7 linked regions of the Homo sapiens genome follow. The gene in region 3 interacts genetically with the main gene of each other region. Each region holds a gene or a part of one and is shown on either strand. Other genes may lie near its edges.

Evidence for each region.
Region 1: changes in CDH1 (region 3) and SLC18A3 together harm fitness more than expected from each alone (negative genetic interaction), as found in Homo sapiens cells (one large-scale study listed by BioGRID).
Region 2: changes in CDH1 (region 3) and TMEM204 together harm fitness more than expected from each alone (negative genetic interaction), as found in Homo sapiens cells (one large-scale study listed by BioGRID).
Region 4: changes in CDH1 (region 3) and PPP2R3C together harm fitness more than expected from each alone (negative genetic interaction), as found in Homo sapiens cells (one large-scale study listed by BioGRID).
Region 5: changes in CDH1 (region 3) and DDX19A together harm fitness more than expected from each alone (negative genetic interaction), as found in Homo sapiens cells (one large-scale study listed by BioGRID).
Region 6: changes in CDH1 (region 3) and GPR61 together harm fitness more than expected from each alone (negative genetic interaction), as found in Homo sapiens cells (one large-scale study listed by BioGRID).
Region 7: changes in CDH1 (region 3) and CAPRIN1 together harm fitness more than expected from each alone (negative genetic interaction), as found in Homo sapiens cells (one large-scale study listed by BioGRID).

The regions. Positions count from the first base shown.
Region 1 is NC_000010.11:49,608,928-49,613,109, reverse strand, and holds SLC18A3 (vesicular acetylcholine transporter), read right to left. Parts: upstream 2,801-4,182; 5' UTR 2,370-2,800; coding exon 771-2,369; 3' UTR 390-770; downstream 1-389. UniProt on the Homo sapiens protein: Electrogenic antiporter that exchanges one cholinergic neurotransmitter, acetylcholine or choline, with two intravesicular protons across the membrane of synaptic vesicles.
Region 2 is NC_000016.10:1,540,166-1,543,665, forward strand, and holds part of TMEM204 (transmembrane protein 204), read left to right. Parts: exon of another isoform or gene 1-560; coding exon of another isoform or gene 561-576; intron 577-818; exon of another isoform or gene 819-1,328; coding exon of another isoform or gene 1,329-1,353; intron 1,354-1,755; coding exon 1,756-1,911; intron 1,912-3,500. UniProt on the Homo sapiens protein: Can influence paracellular permeability. Appears to be involved in cell-cell interactions through adherens.
Region 3 is NC_000016.10:68,810,292-68,813,791, forward strand, and holds part of CDH1 (cadherin-1 isoform 1 preproprotein), read left to right. Parts: coding exon 1-50; intron 51-1,392; coding exon 1,393-1,568; intron 1,569-1,843; coding exon 1,844-1,972; intron 1,973-3,021; coding exon 3,022-3,204; exon of another isoform or gene 3,205-3,271; intron 3,272-3,500.
Region 4 is NC_000014.9:35,104,991-35,108,490, reverse strand, and holds part of PPP2R3C (serine/threonine-protein phosphatase 2A regulatory subunit B'' subunit gamma), read left to right. Parts: intron 1-254; coding exon 255-352; intron 353-1,116; coding exon 1,117-1,187; intron 1,188-3,500. UniProt on the Homo sapiens protein: May regulate MCM3AP phosphorylation through phosphatase recruitment. May act as a negative regulator of ABCB1 expression and function through the dephosphorylation of ABCB1 by TFPI2/PPP2R3C complex.
Region 5 is NC_000016.10:70,360,403-70,363,902, reverse strand, and holds part of DDX19A (ATP-dependent RNA helicase DDX19A), read right to left. Parts: intron 2,486-3,500; coding exon 2,393-2,485; exon of another isoform or gene 2,267-2,392; intron 1-2,266. UniProt on the Homo sapiens protein: ATP-dependent RNA helicase involved in mRNA export from the nucleus.
Region 6 is NC_000001.11:109,538,489-109,542,671, reverse strand, and holds the start of GPR61 (G-protein coupled receptor 61), read right to left. Parts: upstream 2,801-4,183; 5' UTR 2,719-2,800; exon of another isoform or gene 2,605-2,718; intron 251-2,604; 5' UTR 1-250. UniProt on the Homo sapiens protein: Orphan G-protein coupled receptor. Constitutively activates the G(s)-alpha/cAMP signaling pathway. Shows a reciprocal regulatory interaction with the melatonin receptor MTNR1B most likely through receptor heteromerization.
Region 7 is NC_000011.10:34,086,231-34,089,730, reverse strand, and holds part of CAPRIN1 (caprin-1), read right to left. Parts: intron 3,427-3,500; coding exon 3,318-3,426; intron 337-3,317; coding exon 275-336; intron 1-274. UniProt on the Homo sapiens protein: mRNA-binding protein that acts as a regulator of mRNAs transport, translation and/or stability, and which is involved in neurogenesis, synaptic plasticity in neurons and cell proliferation and migration in multiple cell types.

The sequences.
Region 1 (4,182 bases), on a different chromosome or scaffold from region 3:
GGATTCTGGTCTGAAGGGAAGCTCAGCCCAGGCACCTCAGAGCTCTGAGGCTGGTGTGGGGCGTGTCCTCAAAGGGCGGGGCCTGGCGTGCCTAGCTGGAGCGGGTCCTCAGGCTCCCCCGGGCGGCATCCCCGGGCTCTGCGCTAGGCCTGGAAAAGAGGGTCTATCCTGGGCTGAGGGGAGCATGGTGCTCCTTGGTGACCGTGGGTGACAGCCTTTGTTGGGTTTGCTTCCTTCCTATCCCCTTTTCCAGGTAGAAAAACAGCTACAGGTGCCTACGTGTTAGTTTGGCTTAGGTCTGGATTGGGACTTGGAGACCCAGTTCACCCTCCCCTCTGCTCTGGCCCTGCGCGCCTCCACGCACCCCCCACCAGTAAAGAGACTCGGCCTCCTGGGACAGACACAGTTTATTGATTTGGGCGGAGGCGCCGCGGTGCAGCGGCCCAAGTTTGGCACTGGGAGCAATGGAAGGAAGGACAGACAGATGCAGGCTCTACACAGGGGAGCCGCAGGTGGGGACTCAGGGTCCTCTTCACCTCCGCAAGGAGCGCGATGGCTTCGCTGGCCTCGGTGCTCCAAGCCCCATTGGACAAGAGAGAAAGGGATATGGAACGGGTCACAGGGAGGGGATTTGGGCAGAAGTCAAGGTTGAGGAGTGGCTGGGGTACTCGCTGGAGGAGGTGGGCCCTGAGCCAGAGCTGGCCAGTGGGCTTGCAGAGCAGCCCCCTTGACCCAAGGCGGTTGGGTGGGCTGGAGGAGGAGTGGGGATGCTAGCTGCGGGTGTAGTAGTAGTTGTAGTCGTCCTCGCACGCATCAAAAGGGCCAGGCGGGCTGCGAGGCTCGCCGTCCTGGCCAGACACAGGACGCTCACGCAGGCGCACCGCATCGTACAGACCTTGCGGTGGCTCATCAAGCAGCACATCGCGCTCGGAACGGGAGCGCGTCAGGAGGCCCACGTTGCGGAGCAGCAGCAAGACGGGAGCATAGAGCAGGTTGGCCAGTCCCATGCCAAGGCTGAGCTGCTCAAAGCCCAGCGAGTGCACAATGTGGCCTGCCACTATGGGCCCGAGCGCGTAGGCCACCGAATAGGAGATGTCGGCGATGGCGTAGACGCTGCCATAGACTGAGACATGGCGCACGTCCACCAGGAAGGCGAGCGTGGGCAGCAGTGCTGTGTCGACTAGGGCTATGCCAAAACAGAGGCCGCATAGTGAGACCACTAGCGGCGCGAAGGAGCGGCAGGCGGGCACGATGCACGAGCTGGCGCCGATCACAGCCAGCCCAAGCGCGCCGTACAGCCACTGCAGGTGTGGGTAGCGCGCCGCCAGGCGCACGGTGAGGTAGACGCCCAGCACATGAGGCACGAAGGCCGGCAGCCAGGCCATGCCCATCTCCCACTCGGAAGCCGCCATCGTATGCTTCATCCACGTGGCAATGGTGGGTTCGAGGAAGGCGAGGGGAATGTTACAGGTGGTGAGCGCGCCGGCCACCACGGCAATGTAGGGGTCTAGCATGAGGCGGTGGATGGGAGTGCCCACTGGCAGGTTGGCCCGAGCCCGTGCAGCCGCCGAGAAGGGTTTGGCCACTGCCAGCAGCAACAGCGCGTCAAAGAGCGACACGGCAGCTAGCACCAAGAAGGGCACGCGCTTGCCGGCGAACTCATAGAGGATGCCCCCGAAGGGCGGGGCCACTAGGCTTCCGAAGCTAATGAAGGCCAGCGCCACGCCCAGTGCACGACTGCGCTCCGGCTCCTCCGGGTACTTATCGGCGATCATGGCTATGCCAGACGTGTCGGCGAAGGCTGAGCCCAGGCCCTGCAGGCTGCGCGCCGCGAACAGCGTGGCGTAGTCCTCGGCGAAGGCGAACAGGACTGTAGAGGCGAACATGACGCCCAGGCCGATCAGCAGCGGCACGTCGTAGCTCATGCGGTCGATGAAGGGCCCGCTCAAGGGGTTCACTAGCAGCTGCAGGATAGCCTTGGAAGCAAACAGCACCCCGATCTTCACGTCTTCGCTCTCCGTAGGGTAGCGGGGCCGAAGGGCTGAGCCCGCTGGCCACGCAGCTGTCGGGGACGCCGAGGTGTTGGCCGTGTAGGCGCTGGCATTGGCCGGAGTGGGCAGCGGCAGGGTGGGCTCCCACACCTCGGGAGTCCGGGTGGGGCCCTCGCCGCCCCCGCGCATGTGGGCGATGTAGTCGGGCACTATGGGCACGATGACCATGTACAGCATGTTGTCCAGTAACAGCGCCACGCACACGATAACAAGCACCAGGCGCCTCTGCCGCCGGGGCTCCTGCAGCGCCGCGCCCACAGCCTCCGACAGCTTGGTGGCCGCCGCCCGGGCCTGGCCCGCAGGTTCCGCGGATTCCATGCCCCCACCCCGATGCTCTTCCGAGGACGCCTCCGCCAGGGCCGAGCGCTGGCGTCCCGCAGTGCAGAGGCGAGGGCACGGGACTTCGGGGAGGCTGTCCTGGCCGAGCAGACTCCCCTGTGCCTCAGGTGGCCGCGGAGCTCATGGCCCAGCGTCCCGGGAAAGGAAAGGACTCCGTCCGGCGAGGCGTTGCAGCTACTCTTAGCCGATCCCGGGACCCGCGGCTGCTGGGCTCAGGGGCGGCCGGGAAGTCGGGCGCGCCGAGGGGCCGGGGCCGGAGACTGGGCGCACTTCGCCCGGGGCGCGCCCAGAGCAGCCCCCGCCGCGCTAAGAGGCCGCCCGCGCTGGCCGAGGGACATGCTGTTGCCGCCCGCCCGCTTGCCCGCCCGTTAGCCCCGCCGCTGCGCTCCCCTCCCCTCGCGTCGGCTCTTGCCTCCTCCGCCGCCTCCTCTTTTTTTTTCCCTTCCACTCGGGGCTGTGACGCGGCGAGTCCCAGCCCCCGAGTGGTGCCCGGGCCACTTACGTCGCTCATGCTAATGCGACGTCGGCGGGGCGGGGGCCGGGGGCGGGGCGTGGCCGGGCAGGGGTCCGCTCTCCAGATGCTCCAGGGCTGGAGGCCCAGGAAGGGCTCTCGGTGTGGAAGTCTTGAACCAGCCCCTGGGATGGGCGTTCCGCGCCGGTAGCTGGCCCTCTGCCCCCCGCCCCCTGCCTGCCCCCCGCCCGCGGTTCTAGGACTCGCGGGGTCAGCGCCCGCTCTTCTCCTCTTGGGGAAGGGGGCGCGGCAGCCGGTTCCTCGAGGCCCCTTGGGAGAGGCGGGAGCCAGAGGCTTGCGATCTCCGCTTCAGCCTGGACCTCGGCGCACAGCGAGCAGGAAGCCCCCGAGGTGAGCCGCCGCTGCGTCCATCTGTTCTCGCAGCTGGATTGTGGAGCCGCGTCCGGAGGAGCGCTGGACACGGACACCCCCAACCCTTTCTCCGACTCCGCCCCCTGGCCCCTTGCACACACACTCCCGCCAGGAGGGGAGGGGAAGGCTCAGCAACTGCCTGGCCTGGCTCTGACCCACCGGCCCCTCCGCAGAATTTCTCGGCCGCGAATCGCGGCCGGGAGCTTGTGGGGACTGAGGGCAGAAGTTGCCGCGCCCCAGTCGGGGTCGCGAATATTAGCCTGGCCGCTGCCGCCCTCCCGCACTGCCTGGCCACATTCCCCTTGCCTGGAATCCCCCTTTCTCCTTTAGCGGTCTGGTCCCCCAGCTCCGCCTCTTCTCTCCCCGCCGCCGCACCCCCTCCCCACTCTAACTCCTCCCAGGCACTCTTCGCACCCGACCAAGCCCTCCCTCGGCTCCTGCCAGCCTCCGCCCCCTGTTCTGCACACTCCCCCATCCCTCATTTTCCAGAGCCTCCTCCAAGCCCCGGGTGGGCTCTGGAGTGACTGTGGCTGGGGTCCTCTCTTGGAACTGTAAGAAACCCTTCTTGGGTGCCGCGCCCACTCCCCGGAGAGCGCCCAGCCGCTTCGCTGTCGTCAGGGGCTCCAGGGAGACTCACCTTCCTTCTGAGAGGGCCGCACCCCTTGAGGCGCCCGTGCTCAGCTGACAGGCTGAGCTGCCCAGGCTGTGCGCTGGGCCTGACGCGTCCCCAGAGCGGCGTTGACCCTGGATGGCACATGGAACCCGTGTTCCAGTGGGCGGACTGGCGGGAGAGAGGCTCCAGGGCGGCTGAGGTTGGAGGTGGGGATTGTGTTGTTGAGATTACGGTTTGCGTCTCTCTTCCAGAGTCAGAGGGGAGCCTTCCCATTTTTCTGGCCTCAAAAGTAAAGC
Region 2 (3,500 bases), about 67 Mb from region 3:
CGGGGCAGATGTGAGCGCTGGAGCAGCACCCAGCCCAAGGGCCAGGTGGGAAGCAGATGCCTCGGCTCCAGAGCTTTGAGGTTATTCTGTGAATCCAGATTGCATTTCAATAAATGTTGAGGTTGAACCGTGTGGAATTGCTAATACTGGCAATAGTGGTTCCAACGGATACTTCTAACCACGTAAACACTCACGAAGTAAAGCAGCCCGCATCCCCCACCACCCCTGAGCCTTGATGCCAGCGTGCCTGCCCCGTGCACGCGTGAACCTCGACAGCTTCCCCTGCTGGGCTGGCTTCCCACAGGCGTGCTCTGAGGAGGCAGCTTGAGGATCTCCCCATCCCCTCTCGGCCTCCACCCAGGACACACAGCAGTCACCCTAGAGGCCAGCACCTTCAGGGCTCTTGGGACATTCTGCTGCTCCCTGGATTCTGGTGTCTGTGATGAATGCGGGCACAGGGACCTGCTCCTGAGCCTGGATTCTGGTGTCTGTGATGGATGCGGGCGCGGGGACCCGCTCCTGAGTGGTGAGGCTGCTTCCCTCTTAGATTCCTGCATCAGTTACCTGAAGAGTGCCCTGAAATTTCAAGGCAAGTCATTTAAAAAGGTGCAACTGTTTATAACGACTTAGTTTTGGGAATCGAATTTCCCAAATATTGTTCAATAGAAAACAAGGCATGGCGATGACAGGCTAGGGACTCTGTGGGGCTGTTGCTTCACATGCAGTCCCTGACTCCAGGCTGAGTGTCTGTCAGCACACACATTGTCTGCTCTGCAGCGTGCAGGGGCCTGGGAACACACTGCTTCACCACCACCTCATTTGGGCCCCTGTGTAAGGTTTTATTTGCGGGAGAACATTTCTCTGCTACAGAAACGTGACGAGCCCTGGTCCCTGAGGGCAACAAACGCACCTCCCTCTGAAGTTCACTCACAGAAGGCTCCATCTGCCCCTGACCACGCATCCATGTGCCCTGCCCACCTGGCTCCTGCAACCAGGTGTAGGTGGGGGACAGAGAAGGCTGGGCACAGGCCTGCTGTGAGTGGGGAAGCAGGCCCTGACTTAAGCCACTGAGTGAAAGATTTGTGGCAGATGGGGTGACGGGGCCCCAGGAGGTGAGGGGGGCAGGTGGGGGGCACTGGTTCAGACCCATGTCTGACCCCTGCTCAGCCCCTTGCTGGTTATGAGGGGCCCAGATGAGCTGCTTCTCCTCGGTCCCAAGTCCCTCAGCTGCTGGGAGGAGGGAACACCACCATGAGCCGCTTGGGGGTCGGGCAGCTGAGCACGCAGGACAGCACGCCTGAGGAGCTGGCCCCCCGCGGAGTCTCCGGTCAGGCAGCGCCCTCGTCTTGGATGCTGTGAATTCAGTGACAGGGAAGCCGGTGTTGCTGGTGGGCTTCCCCTTCCCACCTCCACCCCCACGCCAGCGCCTTCAAGGGTCAAGTCAGGCAGAGAGGAACAGCTGTCTCAGGAAGACAGAAATAGCAGAGTAGGGCCCGTCCCTGCAGGGATACGACCACTGCAGCCAGGCCCGGCGGCTGGGATGAACCCTTCCCATCAGGAAGACATGGGACCCAGGGCTTGCAGGCAGGTGAGGGGGAGGGCGTGATGCTTCCCGAAGCCACTGCCCAATGGAGGCACAGCCTGTGCCGACCGCCCTTTCCGAGGCAAACAGAGACCACGAAAGTGGCGTGACGGCTGGCGTGGCCTCTGGAGCCCACCTGCACTCACCACTGCCTCTCTGCTCTTGGCCCACAGTGCAGTTCGACATGATGCGCGCCTGCAACCTGGTGGCCACGGCCGCGCTCACCGCAGGCCAGCTCACCTTCCTCCTGGGGCTGGTGGGCCTGCCCCTGCTGTCACCCGACGCCCCGTGCTGGGAGGAGGCCATGGCCGCTGCATTCCAACTGGCGAGTAAGTACCTGGGCGGGTGTGGCCACCGCGCCCTTGCCCCCTGTGGCCTTCTGGTGCCACAGGAGGGTCCTGAGGCCTTGGGTGGCCTGGGGGGAAGCTGCAGGCCATACCTCTCAACATGGCCACAGGCCACTGAGAAGCCCCATGGGGCATCCTCCCTCCCTCTTGCTGTAGGCAAGAATGATGAAAGACAGAAACACACCCAGGCCAAGGAGCAGGGAGGCTGCGACCACCTGGCGTGTCTGTCACACCCTTTTCCACTTTAAAGGCTGAGGCACTTTGCTTTCCTGAGTCTGTGGGGTCTGATTGCTGACTGGCCCTTGTGCAGTCCACATGGGGCAGCCTGGGTCCTGCCCCTTCCTCAATGCTGAGGCAGCTGGTGGGGAGCAGCCCCTGGGCAGAGGCAGAAGAGCCCATGCCTGGCCCTGACCTTCCCAGCTAAGAGGCCTAGAACAGGTCAGGCCTAGGAAGGCCAAGGCATGTGCTCTGTTATAAACGCAGCTTCCTAGGACCTGCCTGGGGTCAGCCTGGGGTCAGCGCAGGCCCTTTCCGTGAGCGGGACAAGACAGAGTGAGAACACGCTAGCACGTTCCACACTGCCTGAGCCGACAGTGAGGTGCCTGCACGAGCACATGCTGTGTGCCTGGCTCGGACACTGATGCAGACGGCAGGACCATCACGAGGCCCTGGCTTCCCCAAGCCGCCATGTGAGTTGGGGAGGAGGCCCGGCCTTGCAGGCGAGGGGCCATTGGTGCTCAGAGCCTCCTCTCAACGCTCTAGACCCAGCAACCTGGGACAGGTCTTGAGAAGACCTGGCGTCATAGAGGGTGACAGTGATGGAGTTGTCGTCAACGACCTATGGAAGGGTCCTGCGGTGTTCTAGACAAGTGCTTGAGCCACAGCAGTGTCCAGCCATGACCCCCAGCGACCCCAGGGGGCTCTGCTGGTCTTCTGTGGCTGACTGAGAGGTTTGAAGACTGTGGGCATCTGGGGCAGGCTCAGGTCTCCTGCTGCTCACTGGGACAGGTCAGCCCGGTGCCCGCAGAGACAGGGACACAGAGAAAGCGAGCATGTCGGCCCATGGCTGAGCATGACCAGCACGGAGCTGCCCGCACCCTCCTTCTCCTCCTCGAGGCCGGTGCAGCGTTCTGCAGGTTGCCCTGCAGTTCCCACAGAGGAAGTGGCAGGAAGTCCAGAGTGAATCATTCTAGGAATAATGATCCTGGGCCCTTATCTTTCTTAAGAAATACAATTTCCAGAAGGAGGCTGACAGACTGTGGGGGCAGGTATTCCTGTGCTGGAAAGTGCCCTGAGCGAGTCAGGCCGGGCTCTCTGAGCGCTATTAATAGCATGGCGTGGCCCTGGGCAAGTCACTTCCCCTGGCGGGTAGGGGCGGGAAGGGAGGGGCCTCGAGGCTTCAGTGGAAGAGCACAGGGCGTGGAGCCTGGAACTGGAGCTGTGTCTTGGCTCCATCACCATCGACGTGGGGTCAGGCAGATGACTAAACTAACGTGAGCCTCTGCATGCCCAACTTCGAAAAGGGTAATTTCTGCCCCCACCCAACTGACTGTAAGAACGAATGAGACAGG
Region 3 (3,500 bases):
ATTCACCCAGGAGGTCTTTAAGGGGTCTGTCATGGAAGGTGCTCTTCCAGGTATATCCACTAATGAGAATCTGAATACTCAGAAAGACTCTTAGGTTCTTTGGACCCCAAAGTGTTGTCCAAGCCCAAAGGTTGTGTAACTAAAGCTGATCCTTCCTACGGACAGAACTTCTTGGCAAGCCATTGTTGTGTTATATGCATGTGTGTAACAGTCTACCTGTGGAAACATATAAAATAGGGAGAGTTTAAGAACAATCTTCCCTTTTTTATTATTAATTTTTTTTTTTTTTAGGCTGGGCATGGTGGCTCATGCCTGTAATCCCAGCACTTTGGGAGGCCAAGGTGGATGGGTCACCTGTGCTCAGGAGTTCAAGACCAGCCTGACCAACATGGTGAAACCTCGTCTCTATTAAAAATACAAAAAAATTAGCCGGTCGTGGTGGCGGGGGCCTGTAATCCCAGCTACTTGGGAGGCTGAGGCAGGAGAATTGCTTGAACCCGGGAGGCGGGGGTTGCAGTAAGCTGAGATCACGCCACTGCACTCCAGCCTGGGTGACAGATCCAGACTCCGTCTCAAAAAAAAAAAAATTTTTTTTTCAGAGACAGGGTCTTGCTTTGTTGTCCAGGCTACTTTCAAACTCCCGGGCCCAAGCAATCCTCCCACCTCAGCCCCACAAGCTGCTAAGATTATAGGCATGAGCTACTATACCTGGCTAAGAACAACCTTCCTAATTAAGGAACAGATCTTTACCAGTACCTTAAAGCCCTAAACAATCCCCCTTGGTCACATTCTTTTCTCTCCTCCATAAAGATAACCACACCCTAGGCTGGGTGTGGTGGTTCACACCTGTAACCCCAGCACTTTGGGAGGCCAAGGTGGGCAAATCACTTGAGGTCAGGAGTTTGAGACCAGCCTGACCAACATGGAGAAACCCTGTCTCTACTAAAAATAGAAAATTAGCTGGGCGTGGCGACGCATGCCTATAATTCCAGATACTTGGGAGGCTGAAGCAGGAGAATTGCTTGAACCCGGGAGACAGAGATTGTGGTGAGCCGAATCACGCCATTGCATTCCAGCCTGGGCAACAGGAGCAAAACTCCGTCTCAAAAAAAAAAAAAAAAAAAAAGATAACCACACCCTGACTTTTGTGGTAATCATTCCCTTTCTTTTCTTTATTACCATTTGTGTATTTATACCTGGATAATAAGTTGATAGTTTGAGCTTTCTTTCTCCCCTAGCACTTTGGTAAGAATTCTAGGAATTAGGGAACTCTGACACGGTACCACCCCCATGTCCCCTCCTTTATCCCTCAGGGCAGAATTGGATTAAGCAGTATTGACCCAGTCCCAAAGTGCAGCTTGTCTAAACCTTCATCTCCTTGAACTCTTCCAGGAACCTCTGTGATGGAGGTCACAGCCACAGACGCGGACGATGATGTGAACACCTACAATGCCGCCATCGCTTACACCATCCTCAGCCAAGATCCTGAGCTCCCTGACAAAAATATGTTCACCATTAACAGGAACACAGGAGTCATCAGTGTGGTCACCACTGGGCTGGACCGAGAGGTCAGGGGTCAGGAGGATCCAGAGGGTGTGGAGGACAAATGTGTATTAGCTCAATCCCGTGGACAAAGCAAAATCCTGCTAGGCCAGTTGTCAGTTAATACAGTGATGGTCTAAGCTTTGCATCTAAGCTTGTGCCCAGAGGTTCCGTGCCTAGAAGACAGGCAGGCTGGCATGAAGCACATGGTTAAATATTCTGGTTCCATGTGTTGGGCTGGGCTAGGCCAAAGGTGGCTAGTGTTCCTGGTCCTGACTTGGTTGTGTCGATCTCTCTGCAGAGTTTCCCTACGTATACCCTGGTGGTTCAAGCTGCTGACCTTCAAGGTGAGGGGTTAAGCACAACAGCAACAGCTGTGATCACAGTCACTGACACCAACGATAATCCTCCGATCTTCAATCCCACCACGGTAATTCTATAACTCCTTAGAGGGTTTCCAAAGAAAGGTCTTTTGTTGTTCATGAACTAAGTGTCACCACTGCTCATGGGCGAAGTCTTTGAAAACTCTCTCCAGACTAGAGAATGTTAACTTTAAACTTAAAAGCAAGCATCTTGAGATGGCAGTTGTCTTTTAGTATCTTTTTTCCACCCTTGGCCTGGGGCCAATTGGTGCAAGATTGTGAAGTTGCAAAAAGCACCTACTGATTTCATAGTCTCATGGTACATTTTTATAGCAAATATTACCTGGTTTCATTTCTTTATTGAACAAATATTTTCTAAGTTTATATTAGGCACTGTGTTAGACACTGGAGAGACCATCACACACAAAGATTCCATTCTCATGGTGTTTCTGGTATAGCCAGGAAGACATCTTATGAGAATTATTGTATGCCAAGGATATTACATGCATTCAAGGAGAAGGTATTGAGAACCAAGTAGGGTAAGTTTAAATCATCCTGTATAATGGCCAGGCGTGGTGGCTCACACCTGTAATCTAGCAAGTTGAGAGGCCAAGGCTGGTGGATCCCTTGAGGATGGAGTTTGAGACCAGCCTGGCCAACGTGGCGAAACTCCATCTCCACTAAAAATACAAAAATTAGCTGGGCGTGGTGGTGCATGCTTGTAATCCCAGCTACTCGGGCATCTGAGGCATGAGAGTTGCTTGAACCCAGGAGGCGGAGGCTGCAGTGAGCCGAGATTGTACCATTGCACCCCAGTGCGCCCATTGCCTGGCCTCTCCTTGTCACATCTTCTCCTTGAAGCTTGCTTTCAGTTAGCCAGGTGTGGTGGTGCATGCCTGTGGTCCCAGCTACTCTGGAGGCTGAGGTGGGAGGATTGCTTGAGCCCAGGAGGTTGAGGCTACAGTGAGCCATGATCGCTCAAATACACTCCAGCCTGGTGACAGTGAGATCTTATCTCAAAAGAACAACAAAAAAAGAGGAATCCTTTAGCCCCCTGAGACTCAGCTCTGCTAGCAGTCTTGGTACTTTGTAAATGACACATCTCTTTGCTCTGCAGTACAAGGGTCAGGTGCCTGAGAACGAGGCTAACGTCGTAATCACCACACTGAAAGTGACTGATGCTGATGCCCCCAATACCCCAGCGTGGGAGGCTGTATACACCATATTGAATGATGATGGTGGACAATTTGTCGTCACCACAAATCCAGTGAACAACGATGGCATTTTGAAAACAGCAAAGGTTTGTATGGTACCTGGCAAGATGCAGAAACTGGCATCCTCACAGCTGTTCATACCCTTGTCCCCTGGTATCTTCTTAGAAGTAGATTCGCTTTGGCAGGGGGACAGGGTGACTTTCCCAGATTGTAGTGGACCATGTGGGATTTGCAGTGGCTCTTCCTGCTCATGTAAGAAATCAAGAAACTGTGCTGTGTGTGGTGGCTCACGCCTGTAATCCCAGCACTTAGGGACGCTGAGGCAGGCAGATCACGAGGTCAGGAGTTTGAGTCTCTGCTAAAAATACAAAAATTAGCCAGG
Region 4 (3,500 bases), on a different chromosome or scaffold from region 3:
ACTCATGATGTGCCTGCCTCAGCCTCCCAAAGTGCTGGGATTACAGGCAAGAGCCACTGCGCCTGGCCAAATCTCCATTTCTTTTAAAAAAAAAAAAAAGTTTGACTTAATATTTTAAGTTTTTGAATTATAAGGAGTCTCTATTGTTCTTTCATTTTTAATTGTATGAATTTATGCCATTGTTTGCTAATTTATGTAGAAGTCATTTTCTTTTATGTTGGCAGATCATTTAAATCTTTATTTTCTTTTCTTAGGCAATTTTTCACAGCAAAAGTCTTTGCTAAACTCCTTCATACAGATTCATATGGAAGAATTTCCATCATGCAGTTCTTTAATTATGTCATGAGAAAAGGTGATTCATTTTTACTGTGCTTGAACTCCTTATCTGGGAATCAAGTAGGTTTTTGGTCTGTGCTTTTATAAGTATTTCTTCTATGTGAAATCACTCTAAGTTTGAATAGTAGAATTTCTTATCTTTTGACCAAGATGTGTTACATAAACTTGGGTTAGCATAAAAAAACAAAAATTTTTTAAACCCTCATGTGTCTTAAAGATAATAGTAGACTAGAAATATTAAGAGCTGAACCAAGAGTTTTAATGTATGGTAATTTGAAATAATTTTAATTTACTGATAATTTTATTTTACCAGTATATTACAAGTTGAGTTGACTGATAGTTTCAAACCCAAAGCTGTAATATCAGTTTCAAGGAGCATCAATTAAACAGCTTGGACTTATGATTCCTACAAGTGCCATAATAATCTGTGAAAGCCTATTGTATACAATCTTTAATAATTGGTTGCTGTAATTAACCTCAGAAATAAAAGCAGCTTCACTGAAGGCATAATATTATACTAGCTGTCCCTGTTTGGTGGAACACCAAGTTTAATTGGTAAAGAACAGTATCTTCAAGGTGTCAATTTTATTATAGCTTTAGTCATGGTAGAATTGTTGAACTCTTCCATTCTATGGTTTTTTGTTTCAAGCAATTTTGTGGTGAGAAGAAATGTTTTTAGAGTTACTAGATTAGCTTGTCTCAAATCTGGCTCTTTATCTCCTTTTTCATATCTGAAGGATAGATCTTAAGAATTACTTTCATTTTCTTGTTTATTGTCAGTTTGGCTTCATCAAACAAGAATAGGACTCAGTTTATATGATGTCGCTGGGCAGGGGTACCTTCGGGAATCTGTAAGTGTTAACCTTATAGATATTATATTAACTCTTATAGACACTAAAATGTAAACTGTAGTTATCACTGGGTGTTGGGATTACAGGCTGTTCTCATAATACTTTGTTTTATTTCTGTCTGTGTGTGTTTGTGTGTACATATTTAGTTTTACTGTAACAAAGCAACTTGTACACTTTCAACTTTTAAAATTGAACATCATCTTTCCAGTGAAACAAAAAACAAATTTAAAATAAACAAAATTACAATAGAGAATGTCAATTCCAAATAAGATCCTACAGGTTCTACTGATTCTCCCATGGAGTAGCAGCCTTCAAGTCATCATTAAGAGAGAATTTATGCTGGGTGTGGTAGCTCACACCTGTAATCCCAGCACTTTGGAAGGATGAGGCAGGCGGATCACCTGAGGTCGGGAGTTTGAGACCAGCCTGACCAACATGGAGAAACCCTATCTCTACTAAAAATACAAAATTAGCCAGGCTTGGTGGCACATACCTGTAATCCCAGCTACTTGGAAGGCTGAGGCAGGAGAATCACTTGAACCCAGGAGGCAGAGGTTGCTGTGAACCGAGATAGCGCCATTGCACTCCAGCCTGGGCAACAAGAGTGAAACTCCGTCTCAAAAAAAAAAAAAAAAAAAAATGTATTGGCTGGGTGCAGTGGCTCACGCCTGTATTCCCAAGGCCTGTACTCCCAGCACTTTGGGAGGCTGACGTGGGCGGGTCACCTGAGGTCAGGAGTTTGAGACCAGCCTGACCAATATGGTGAAATTCCATCTCTACTAAAAATAGAAAAATTTGCTGGGCTGTGGTGGTGCATACCTGTAATCCCAGCTATTCAAGGGGCTGAGGTGGGAGAATCGCTTGAATCTGGGAGGCAGAGGTTGCAGTGAGCCGAGATTGCACCACTGCACTCCAGCCTGGGCAACAGAGGGAGACCCTGTCTCAAAAAAAAAGAGAGAGAGAATTTATTTTAAAGGTGTCATTTTAAACTGCAAGGATGCCCCTTAAAAATCACAATTAAACATGCCAAAGGAAAAGCAACGTTGTCAAAATGCTCACTTTAAACTATCAAAACGTTTCAAACCTACCCTTTGCTGACCTATAACCCCATTTTGTAAAATTTATTTTCTTTTTTTAAATAAGAGACAGTAGACAAGGATGCCGGGCGTGGTGGCTCACGCCTGTAATCCCAGCACTTTGGGAGGCCGAGGCGGGCGGATCACGAGGTCAGGAGATCGAGACCATTCTGGCTAACACGGTGAAACCCCATCTCTACTAAAAATACAAAAAAAAATTAGCCGGGCGTGGTGGCAGGCACCTGTAGTTCCAGCTACTTGGGAGGCTGAGGCAGGAGAATGGCATGAACCCAGGAGGCGGAGCTTGCAGTGAGCCGAGATCACGCCACTGCACTCCAACCTGGGCGAAAGAGCGAGACTCCATCTCAAAAAAAAAAAGACACAGTAGACAAGGAGATGTTGGTAAATGCTAACTGTCCATATTCACATAGAGACATAGTATACTCTGCGCTCAATAGAGGAAAGCAGCTAGAATTCTATGCACGACTACACAAGGGCCTAGCACCTTCCAGCTTCCAGCAGAGCAAAGGGAACAGGTTTTTCTTTTTTTTTCCATAGACCTCGGTGGTGTTGATTCCATATAGTTTTTGTTGAGACACAGGATGTTTCCGTTTTGGGGTTTGGTTTTTTATTTTTATTTTTTTTAACAAATGACATGTGTTACTAAACAAATGTTTAATGTATATTGACTATACAAATTCCTTTTTAGATTCTTTTTCTTCAAACTTTAAAAAAAAAAGGCCTTTTGGCTGGGCGCGGTGGCTCATGCCTATAATCCCAGCATTTTGGGAGGCCGAGGTGGGCAGATCTTGAGGTCAGGAGTTCAAGACCAGCCTGACCAACATGGAGAAACCCCGTCTCTACTAAAAATACAAAAATTAGCCAGGCATGGTGGTGGCCACCTGTAATCCCAGCTACTCAGGAGGCTGAGACAAGAGAATCGCTTGAACCCAGGAGGTGGAGGTTGCAGTGAGCCTAGATTGTGCCATTGCACTCCAGCCTGGGTGACAAGAGCGGACTGTCTCAAAAAAAAAAGCCTTTTAAAGGGGAAAATAAAAAGAATGTAGCATTTTAACATTTAAAAATCACTGAAAAACGTTTGATTATTCATGAGTGATATTAATGTGTCACTATTTTTTAAAGGGCCAAGAATTCCACCCCCCCGCTTTTTTTTTTTTAAGAAAATATAAGAGAAGCCAGACACGGTAGCTCACGCCTGTAATCCCAGCACTTTGGG
Region 5 (3,500 bases), 1.6 Mb from region 3:
CCGGGCGTGGTGGCGGGTACCTGTAGTCTCAGCTACTGGGAAGGTTGAGGCAGGAGAATGGCATGAACCTGGGAGGCGGAGCTTGCAGTGAGCAGACGTTGCGCCACTGCATTCCAGCCTGGGCGACAGAGCGAGACTCCATCTCACAAAAAAATAAATAAATAAATAAATAAATAAACTAAGGTGGGCAGATCACTTGAGGTCAGGAGTTCGACACCAGCCTGGCCAACATGGTGAAACCCCACCTCCATTAAAAATACAAAAATTAGGCTGGGTGCGGTGGCTCACGCCTGTAATCCCAGCACTTTGGGAGGCTGAGCCAGGCAGATCACGAGGTCAGCAGTTCGAGACCAGCCTGGCCAACGTGGTAAAACCCCATCTCTACTAAAAATACAAAAATTAGCCAGGCATGGTGGCAGGCACCTGTAATCCCAGCTACTCGGGAAGCTGAGCCAGGAGAATCACTTGAACCCGGGAGGCGAAGGTTGCGGTGAGCTGAGACCGCGCCATTGCACTCCAGCCTGGGCAACAGAGCGAGACTTCATCCCAAAAACAAACGAACAGACAAAAAAATACAAAAATTAGCCAGGTGTGGTGGTGTGCGCCTGTAATCCTAGCTACTCAGGAGGCTGAGGCAGGAGAATCACTTGAACCTGGAAGGCAGAGGTTGAAATGAGCCAAGATTGCACCACTGCACTCCAGCCTGGGCGACAGAGGAGACTCCATCTCAAAAAAGAAAAAATGATAAATATGCCAGGTGCAGTAACACATGCCTATAATCCCAACACTTTGGGAGGCTGAGGCTGGAGAATCACTTGAGGCCAGGAGTTTGAGACCAGCCCTGGCAACATAGTGATACCCTGTCTCTACAAATTTTTTTTTTTTTTTTGAGACAGAGTCTTACTCTGTCGCCCAGGCTGGAGTGCAATGGTGTAATCTTGGCTCATTGCAACCTCTGTTTCCTGGGTTCAAGCGATCCTCCCACCTCAGCCTCCCTAGCAGCTGGGATTACAGGTGTGCGCCACCAAGCCCGGCTAATTTTTTTGTATTTTTTGTAGAGACGGGGTTTCACCATGTTGGCCAGGCTGGTCTCAAACTCCTGACCTCAAGTGATCCACCTGCCTCAGCTTCTCAAACTACAAAAAAGTTTTTTTAAAGTCAGCTGGGCATGGTGGCACATGCCTATAGTCCCAGCTACTCCGGAGGCTGAGGTGAGAGGATTAATTAAGCCCAGGAGGTCGAGGCTGCAGTGGGCTGTAATTGCACCACTGCACTCTAGATGGGGAAACAGAATGAGACCCTGTCTCAAAAGGAACTTAGTCTTGTCAGGGTGGGAGAAGGATGTGGAAGGAGGGGAATTCAGGGGCTTCAACTATCAACTGGACCTGCTTCCTTTCTTGGCAGGATAGGGCTACAGAGGTGTTCTTGGTATTGTTCTTTACACCTTTGTGTAGGTCTCAAAAATTTCCAAATAATATTTTGTTTGTTTTTGAATTTATTGCAACACCATTCACATCAAAATAATATTTTTTAAACCCAGTTTTTTTTTTTTTTTTTTTTTTGAGACAGAGTCTATGTTTCCCAGGCTAGAGTGCAGTGGCATGTCTCGGCTCACTGCAACCTCTGCCTCTGGGGTTCAAGCAATTCTCCTGCCTCAGCTACATGACCACAGGTACGTGCCACCATGCCAGGCTAATTGTTGTATTTTTAGTTTAGTTTTTTTTTTTTTTTGAGACAGGGTCTTGCTGTCACCAGGCTAGAGTACAGTGGCACCATCTCGGCTCACTGCAACCTCTGCCTCCCGGGTTCAAGCAATTCTCCTGCCTTAGCCTCCTGAGTAGCTGGGACTACAGGCACATGCCAACAGGCCTGGATATTTTTTTTTTTTTGATTTTAGTAAGACGGGGTTTCACCATGTTGCCCAGGCTGGTCTCGAATTACTGAGCTCAGGCAATCCGCCCACCTTGGCCTCCCAAAGTGCTAGGATTACAGGTTTGGGCCACCGTGCCCAGCTAATTTTGTATTTTTAGTAGAGACAGGGTTTTGCCATGTTGGCCAGGCTGGACTCAATCTCCTGACCTCAGGTGATCCGCCCGCCTCGGCCTCCCAAAGTGCTAGGATTACAGGAGTGAGCCACCATGCCCGGCCTTAAGCCCAGTTTTTAAGATAGCATGGAATAAAGCACTACCTTTCTCTATAAGTTTCTATTGTTAAGTGGGAAAGGCAGAAACTGTAGCTAACTCCATCCGATTCTCTCTGCACTTGCCTAAGCTGTATTCCTGAGGAAACACGTGGCCCCAAACAGCTCCTTCTGTTCTCAGGCACAAAAACGCAGTTTGGGGAAGATTGATCTAATCACACTGGGTGAGATGCGCTTCATCTGCATACTCACGGTTCAGCAAGCATCATGGGTAATGCGTTCTCTTGTATCTTGGAGGGTCGATTGAAGCCCATGGCATAGACTCCCTGGAGAAGCTGTGGTTTCCTAGGAAGCCAGGAAGACAGAGGATGGATGCCTAGAAGTTAGAATTGTTTTAGAGGCCTAGAATCTTATCTTTTTCTATAGAAAGGAATGATGCCTCCTACCTCTGTCAGACGTATTTTCCTATGCCTTAAAAAAACACTGTCAAAAACCAAACCAAATCAAACCAAGCTACCGCCCTTCCCTAAGGAATCTTAATCTGCAACTATTCTATAATTCATAAAATACAGAATGGTTTCTTTTCTTAGAGAAATTAATGCTTTCAGCAGACCCGCAAATCTGGCTGGCCTTGGAAGACAAGTGTTCCCTGGACACAGCAAGGGTGGTGGTTATTAATTCATAGCATTACATAAATTATAAAAGATATATCTAAAAACAGGTCAGGTACAGTGACTCATGCCTGTAATCTCAGCACTTTGGGAGGTCAAGGCAGGCCAACTGCTTGAGGCCAGAAGTTCGAGAACAGCCTGGGCAACATGGTGATACCTCGTCTCTACAAAAAAATACAAAAAATAGCTGGACACACCTGTAGTCCCAGTTACTCAAGAGGCTGAGGTGGGAGGCTCACTTGAGCTCAGGAGGTCAAGGCTGCAGTGATCTGTGACTGAGCCACTGCACTCCAACCAGGGTGACAGAGTGGGACTCTAAAGTAAATAATAAATGAAAATAAACACTATTTACTATACTGCTAAGATTTAGAAGTCCTTTTGTTCCATGTTCCTTCCAAAGCCAGCTATGCAAATACTCCAGACAATCAATAGGTAAGGAAATTGATGGGCTGGGCGTGGTAGCTCACGCCTGTAATCCCAGCACTTTGGGAGGCCTAGGTGGGACGACTGCTTGAGGAGTCCAGGCGTTCAAGACCGGCCTGGGCAACACAGTGAGACCCTGTCTCTAAAACAAAACAAAACAAAACAAAACAAAAAAGAAAAATGAGCTGGGCATGGTGGCATGCACCTGTAGTCCTAGCTACTTGGGAGATTGAGGCAGGAGGATTGCCTGAGGCTAAGAGTTAGAG
Region 6 (4,183 bases), on a different chromosome or scaffold from region 3:
ACCCTTCTACCCTTTCCAGAACTGTTAGCCGGGGATTCTAAATCCTGTTTCTCCTTCCCAGGGTCCTGCTGATCTCTGGGATAGTGCCTCAGTTTTAGGGTTCCTTATGTAAATTTCCTGATTTCTTGTCTCCTCAGAATGGCAAGAGCTGCTGGGGAGTAGAAGGAGCACAAAATTTAGTTTCTAGTCCCAGTTCTGGGCATTACTAACTCTGTGAATCTTCTGAATTTCAGTTTCCTCATAAATCCATCTGTAAAATGAAAGGAAGAACACTTGCTTCACAACTGTGTTTCTGGATCCTGCGTGATTTGTTAATAATAATACTAATGACAAGCAGTAGCATTGATACGGCGTTTTCCACATGCCAGACCCTGTTCTCAGCACTCTACCTATATTAACTCATTTTATTCCTCACACAACCCTATGAAGTAGATAATATTTTTATCTCCATTTTGCAAGAGATGAAGCTGAGGTCTAGAAAGGTTAAGTAACTTACCCAAGGTCGCACAGCTAGTAAGCGGCAAGGGCTGGGCACCTACCTGGGCAGTCTGGCCCCAGGTCCAGTACTCTTGCCCACTGTGCCATGCCATATGTGAAGGTGCCCTCCGTGCCGGCTGGACTATAATAGGCATCCAGTAAATAGTTGTTGAATTTCAGCTGTCTCTAAAACTGTCTCTTGCTGCCCTAGGGTTATCATCTGAAAAGGGGAGCTGTGCTTTAGGCTCTTTTGACATCACTACTCCCAGCACAAAGAGCTGCCACTTTGGGAATGTTGAGTAGGAGCAGTGAAAACAAAATGTCCCGTCTGGAAGGAAACTGGGAGGCCAGCTCATCCAGCCTCCACTGCTCCCAAAGCCGGAAGTTGCTTCAAGCTGCCCTTCTCCACCCACTCATGAACTCTTCAAGGCCACTGTGCCCCTCTTGTGGGAAAGGAGCTGCTGCCAACCTCCTGCTCCCCAGATCCCCAAATCTCTGATCTCTGGAGCTGACCCTTGGAGGATCCCTGACCAAGAGCCGCATTGGTTCTAGACTTACTACAGTCACAGAACAAGAAGTAGGGAGGAGACACTGAGGTTGCTCAGTTTAAAAACCCATCATTTCTATGGCTGCAATAAAGAGGATCACATGGCAAGATGGGCCCCACTCTCCTCCACAGTTATAGCCTTACAGTCACCTTTGGTTTTTGGTGTTTCCATAAACCTTACACCAATCCAACTTCTAACATGCTATGCATGCAATAGGTGCTGAATACAATTTTGTGAATTGAATCAAACTCAAATTGGTAGTTGAATCCCTGCCCCCTAGGACAAACTCCAAGAACACTCAGTCAGCCAGCTGTGTGCCAGCCAAGGGACTCTCTTGTGGAAAGGGTAGCCGGGGTTCCTGGACTTGAGGAAGCCCTAACTTTGGGCAACTGCCTAGAGACGTGCCTCTCTCTAGGGACACAGAAAGCTCATTTCACAGTTAAGATGCCCACAGAGACTTAGAGTCTGCAGAGAAGTTGAAGAGCGGGCACAAAAGTGAGACATCAGCTTCTCATTAGAGTCTACCAGGAAAAATGCCTGAAAGAAATGCTAGGAGAAGCATCCTTCCTTCTTACTCTCCATGCTCTGATTTACCTATCCCTTCTGTCTGTGAGTGAGGCCCAGAGGATGTGGTTCAGAGTCCCTCCCTGGTGGCTGAAGGAGGAGAGGCCCACCATGTCTGGATGGACATCAAGAGTCCCAGACGGAGGGAAGCAGACCTGGTTTCCACGTGGAGCTGGAGGGATGCCACGAAGCCATGATGGAGCCCTGAGCAAGAAGGCATTGGACATTGCTCTTTTTCATAGCTCCCTCAAGCTTGCCAGTGTCTCCACAGTGACTCCTAAATGCCAGGATTCCAATTTACCTCTTAACAGACAGATCAGTGTATCTGGCTAATGGGCACTCCCTCACTAATGGACTGGGGTTATGGAGGGGAGGGCTGTGGTGTAACAGTTTCATAGGTGAAACCCAGGGAGCCTCACTCCTCTCCCAGGTCATATCATTATGCCTACTCCCCCAACAGATGCTTTCCTTCCCCCACTACTTACTTCCAACAGCACCCCTCTTACCTCCAGGACCTTCAGTACCTAGAAGGCTTTGCCACTAGGGCCTGAGGTCTGGGCCTCTAGCAGGGGCATGGTCAAGTTACAGGATGCAAGATGTGCATAAGTGCCCAGCCCAAGGCCACAGAGGTATTGGGATTCACATGCACCTGTTTTCCAGATCCAGAGCTTCCATCCCAAAGACCTGAGCCTGGCCTTCCTTCAGACAAGAGCGTGCCCCTCCTAAGCTAGGGAAGATTTCCAGGGAGCTACAACACCTCTCCTCAGCAGAGTTGCCCACGCCCAGGACACAGTTGCCCATCAGCCTGTATGCTGAAGGGCCCATTCCTAGAATGTGGGAGACCCATGTCCATGACATGGAGCAAGACAGATGGAGAATGCTGTTTGTCTGCAGGATGTGGGTACTCCTGCCGGCAGGAGATGATCAACCCCCCAGCTCTGGGCTTCAGAGATGCCCACACCCCAATACCGCCTTTGGGATACCTGAGAGCCCATCTCCTGATCAAACTGCTCACCGGAATGTAGGCAGGGCTGGTCCTTGGAAAGCCACCCTTCTGTGGGGATACCTTGGCACTCACCACCAGGCTCTGGGTCTGGCCCCCATTCCTGGCCTAGTCGGCAACTCCTACCTTTGCTGAGCAGTCCCGGCTCCCATGTGATAGCTCCTCTCAGCTGATGCTTCTCCAAGGCTGCTGAAGCCTGAAGCACTGCAGTGAGCGGTGAGAGGCAGCCGGCAAAGCAGAGTGCTCCGAGAGCCTCTGGGTCCTAATGGCCTCCTGCTTCCCACCCAGCCCCTCAGAGTCACTTCTGGAGCAAAAAGGTGGGCACCAATGCCCCAGGCAAGGTGCCTGGCAGTGAGCTCAACTCCTCTCACTTCTCTCAGGCTGCTGGATTGCGTCTCAAAAATTTCGTGGGGCCAGGAAATGATAGGTAGGGGAGACCCTCTTGACCAGCCTGATGAAGTAAAAAAAAAAGTACATGGAGTCAGAAAATCCAGGTTTAAGGCCTGGCTATGGCACTTACTAGCCGTGTGACCTTGGGCAAGTTGCATTTTGGCCTTGATTTCTTAGCAGTTCAAAGAGAAGATAGGAGAGATGCATGGTTCTGTGTGACATCAGAACCAAGGTGCTGATGCAGGCAGGTCAGCGCAGACCCAGGGCCCCAAGGCTTAGGCCAGGGAGGCGGCTGAGGCTCCAGGGGATGGTCCAAGGTTTGGCCCCTTTGGAAGCTGCCTAATGCGTATGGGGGACAGGTTTAGGAGCAGCACTCAGGTTTGAAGGGCAGCTGAAGGCTTTGTCTTAACCCTGCCCTTGCCTCCCAAAAGCACATTATTATTATTTGCTTAGATTGTATGTTTATTGGAACTGGGGCTGTGAGGGCTGATGGAGATTGGCAGGGAGGGGGCGGGAGGATCTAACATCCCCCCGAGCCACCATGGGAACCACCACAACACTGCTTCCTGAAGGAGACAGAGTGGGGGCCAGGGACTCAGGAATGCTCACACTGATCTGGATTTGTGGGACTGGACAGAGCTAGGTAGCATCAGCCACTGAGCATCGCCCATCTGTGGCATGATGGGCCTTCAGAGACGCAATGAAGGGGCATGGCCTCCCTCTAGCTATGAAGAAAATGATCATTTACCCGGGTACATGACTGATACCCAAGGATAGAATCCTAACATTGCAAAGCTGTAGGACATCCTACAGGCCAAGGTATCCATGTTTCTGAGACCCAGAGAGATAAAGAGATTGCTCAAAGCCACATAGCTCCACATGGCAGAGCCATGAGTCTAAACAGGGAATTCAGGCATGATCCCCTACTCCAGAGCCTGCTTCCCTGAGACTTGCCTATCTAGGGACTCCTTCTGCCTCTAAGAAGGAAAAAGGGAATTCTGGAATTGTTTACCAGACCCAACCCAAAGAGCCATAAGAACAATGAGTTACCCAAGGACCTCACTGGGACAAGTTGGCTGCCCCAAGCCCCAGGTCAAAAACAAAGAGGCCACTGACAAACCAAGAGCCGATGCAGCAAGTGCCGCTGTCACCAGCCACCACTTTTTGAGCTGTTATGAGTGCCAGGCCCTTTACATACAGT
Region 7 (3,500 bases), on a different chromosome or scaffold from region 3:
ATTTGCTGAATTCCAACAGAAGACTTGGACACTGATGAAATTCTTATTTTCTTTCATAAGCTAAGAAAGAAACCAAGGAACCAATTAAAACAAAAGTGAAAAAATATTTTTTAATTATTTTTTTAAAATAGAGATGGTGTCTCGCTACACTGCCCAGACTGGTCTTGAACTCCTGACCTCAAGTGATCCTCCCATCTCAGCCTCCTAAAGTACTAGGATTATAGGTACGAGCCACCTAACCTGGCCCTGAAGAAAATAGTTTTATCACTCTTACCTGTGTCGCTTCTGGTTGTACAGGAACTTGATTAGGCTGAGCAAGTCTAGATTCAGAATGAACTGCAAAGGTGACCAAAACATTTTTGTCAAACAAAATTAAATTTTTAGAGAGACGCGTCTAAATACCTTTTATTTCGCTATTAAAGGCTTTTTTTTTTTTTTTTTTTTTTTGCGGGGGGGGGGGGGGGGGGAGTGTCTCACTCTGTCACCCAGGCTGGAGTACAGTGATGTGATCTTAGCTCACTGCAACCTCTGCCTCCCAGGCTCAAGTGATCCTCCCACCTCAGCCTCCCAAGTAGCTGTGACTACAGGTGTGTGCCACCACACTCGGATAATATTTGTATTTTTAGTAGAGACAGGGTTTCGCCATGTTGCCCAGGCTGGTCTCAAACTCCTAGGCTCAAGCAATCTGCCCACCTCAGCCTCCCAAAGTGCTGGGATTATAGGAATGAACCACCATGCCCAGCAATTAAAGGTAAATTTCTATAGCCAAACCATAAATAAACTTTTTAGCAATCATGAAAGTAAATTGGGAAATGCAGATAAAATTTTAGCTTTCAAGTGAGCATTTTGGTTTACCGGCAGTGGTTATTATTTAATAGTTTACTTTCACAATTGGTTTCATCTTGTTTTTTCCAAAAGTAAAGTAAAATGTTAATAGAATGCACTAACAAATAATCAGTGCCATGAAAAAAGACTTTTAAAGCTGTACAATAAAGTGGCATTATTCATACTCTAGACCTCAGACAGATAGTATTCCATTTTGACCTTTTGTTTCTTCTGAAACAGGGTCTCACTGTGTTGCCCAGGCTGGAGTGCAGTGGCGCCATCATAGCTAACTGTAGTCTCAAACTCTGGGCTCAAGAAATCCTCCCACCTTGGCTTCTTGAGTAGCTGGGACTATAGATGCATGCCACCCTGCCAAGCTAACTTTTTTATTTGACTAATTTTTAATTTTTTTGTAGAGGCGAGGTCTATGTTGCTCAGGCTGGTCTCAAACTCCTGGGCTCAAGTGATCCTCCCTCCTCAGCCTCCCAAAGCACTGAGATTACAGGCATGAGCTACCATACCCGGCTCAATATATGTTAACATAACCAACTTTCAATTTCAAGTGTTTCTAGAGAAAAAGAAAATTTAAAATATGTACTTTTCGGCCAGGCACAGTGGCTCATGCTTGTAATCCCAGCACTTTGGGAGGCCGAGGCGGGTGGATCACGAGGTCAAGAGATTGACACCATCCTGGCCAACATGGTGAAACCCCATCTCTACTTAAAATACAAAAATTAGCTGGGTGTAGTGTGGTGTGTGCCTGTACTTTCAGCTACTGGGGAGGCTGAGGCAGGAGAATCCCTTGAACCCGGGAGGCAGGGGTTGCAGCGTGCCGAGCCAAGAATGCGCCACTGCACTCCAGCCTGGCGATAGAGCGAGACTGCGTCTCTAAATAAACAAATAAATAATATATACTTTTTAACAGCCTATATTCAACTCAGCATGCATCTTCTTAACAATTCCCATCACTCTCTCACCTCCCTTCCCAACAATGATTAAACAGATAATCAAAACGACGATCTTTGGTTAGTCATTTAGAAAGTACCCATTTTCACTGGAGAGTCTAATGGACTCAGCATTATGTAAATAACTAAATAGCCTTACAGGTTTTATCAGTGCTATGTATACTGACTTTCACACAACTCCCCAGCTGAGAAAACGACTTACTCTCTTCCTTTGGTAGAGCTCAGAAAATGAACACTAAAAACCATGATTGCTCTCTTGTAGGTGTCACCTTTGATCTGTTTTCTAAAACTCTTGATAGAAATGTGAGAGCCGGGCGCGGTGGCTCACGCCTGTAATCCCAGCACTTTGGGAGGCCGAGGCGGGCGGATCACGAGGTCAGGAGATCGAGACCATCCCGGCTAAAACAGTGAAACCCCGTCTCTACTAAAAATACAAAAAATTAGCCGGGTGTAGTGGCGGGCGCCTGTAGTCCCAGCTACTTGGGAGGCTGAGGCAGGAGAATGGCGTGAACCCGGGAGGCGGAGCTTGCAGTGAGCCGAGATTGCGCCACTGCACTCCAGCCTGGGCGACAGAGCGAGACTCCGTCTCAAAAAAAAAAAAAAAAAAAAAATGTGAGAGATATGAGCTCCCTTTACTTCAGAAAAATCCTAACTACCTTACACCAAATTAACTGTCATTAAACATACTTTTACTCAGCAATTTATTTTATGATATTTAACATCATGCAACATTAAATAGGTTATTTTATTTAGTTCCACTTTTGTGCAACTAAAACTGATGTGTTCTGGGAAAAACCAAGATGACTCACAATCACTAATAGTCCTGGAGAGAAGGTCCACTTAACCCAATGGAAGGCACCAACTGTATTTAGTGCTACTACTTCAAATAATGGTGTAAGTCCAGAAAGAGTCTGAAACTGTCTTGTGGTTTCTCTCTTCCCTTTGCCTCTTACATATTCCCTTACCCACTTCATTGCTGTGTATTTTTTTAAGGTAATAAAATCCAGAAATTCTCCTAGAAAGCTAAAAGCATTCAAAAAAAGGCACCTCTATTATTTTTACTCCTAGATTAATTTTGAAATTTTAAAAGCCAAGCAAAATTTCACTTGTTAAAGTTACAAAAACAGACAAAACTGGTCTATTACAGTTACAAGTACGGAAGTGGTTGCTATCGCTAGGGGTGAGGGTAACTAGTGATTGAAAGGAAACAACGTAGGTTTCTGGGGTACTGGTAATGTTTCATTTCTTAATCTAGCTGCAGGTGTTTTCAGTTTATAAAAACTCATTAAACTTGCGTATATTTTTCTATATCTACATGCCAATGAAAAGTTTAAAAATAAACAGTTATAAACTACATTTTTAATTCAAATCATAGGAACAATAACATTCTTTCTATCAAATTAAAAGACCTAAGAGTCAAAATTAAACAGTCATTAAAATAAACAAAATTTATTTTCACAATCTTTTTAAAACCTGAAAGTACTGGCCTTATATTTCTCTCTCACATAAAAATGTACCACTACTAACCTGGAGGGCAAACCAGCTGGGGCATGTCCATGTTTTGTGTTGGATTCATAGGCTGTGCAGATACAATGGCAGGATCAAGTGTCTGATTTTCAAAATCCAGCATTGAATCCTACAGGTTAAGTTAGGATAGAATAAAGTCAAATAATATAAACACTTAAACTTTCTGTTACAGAGTCTGACTAA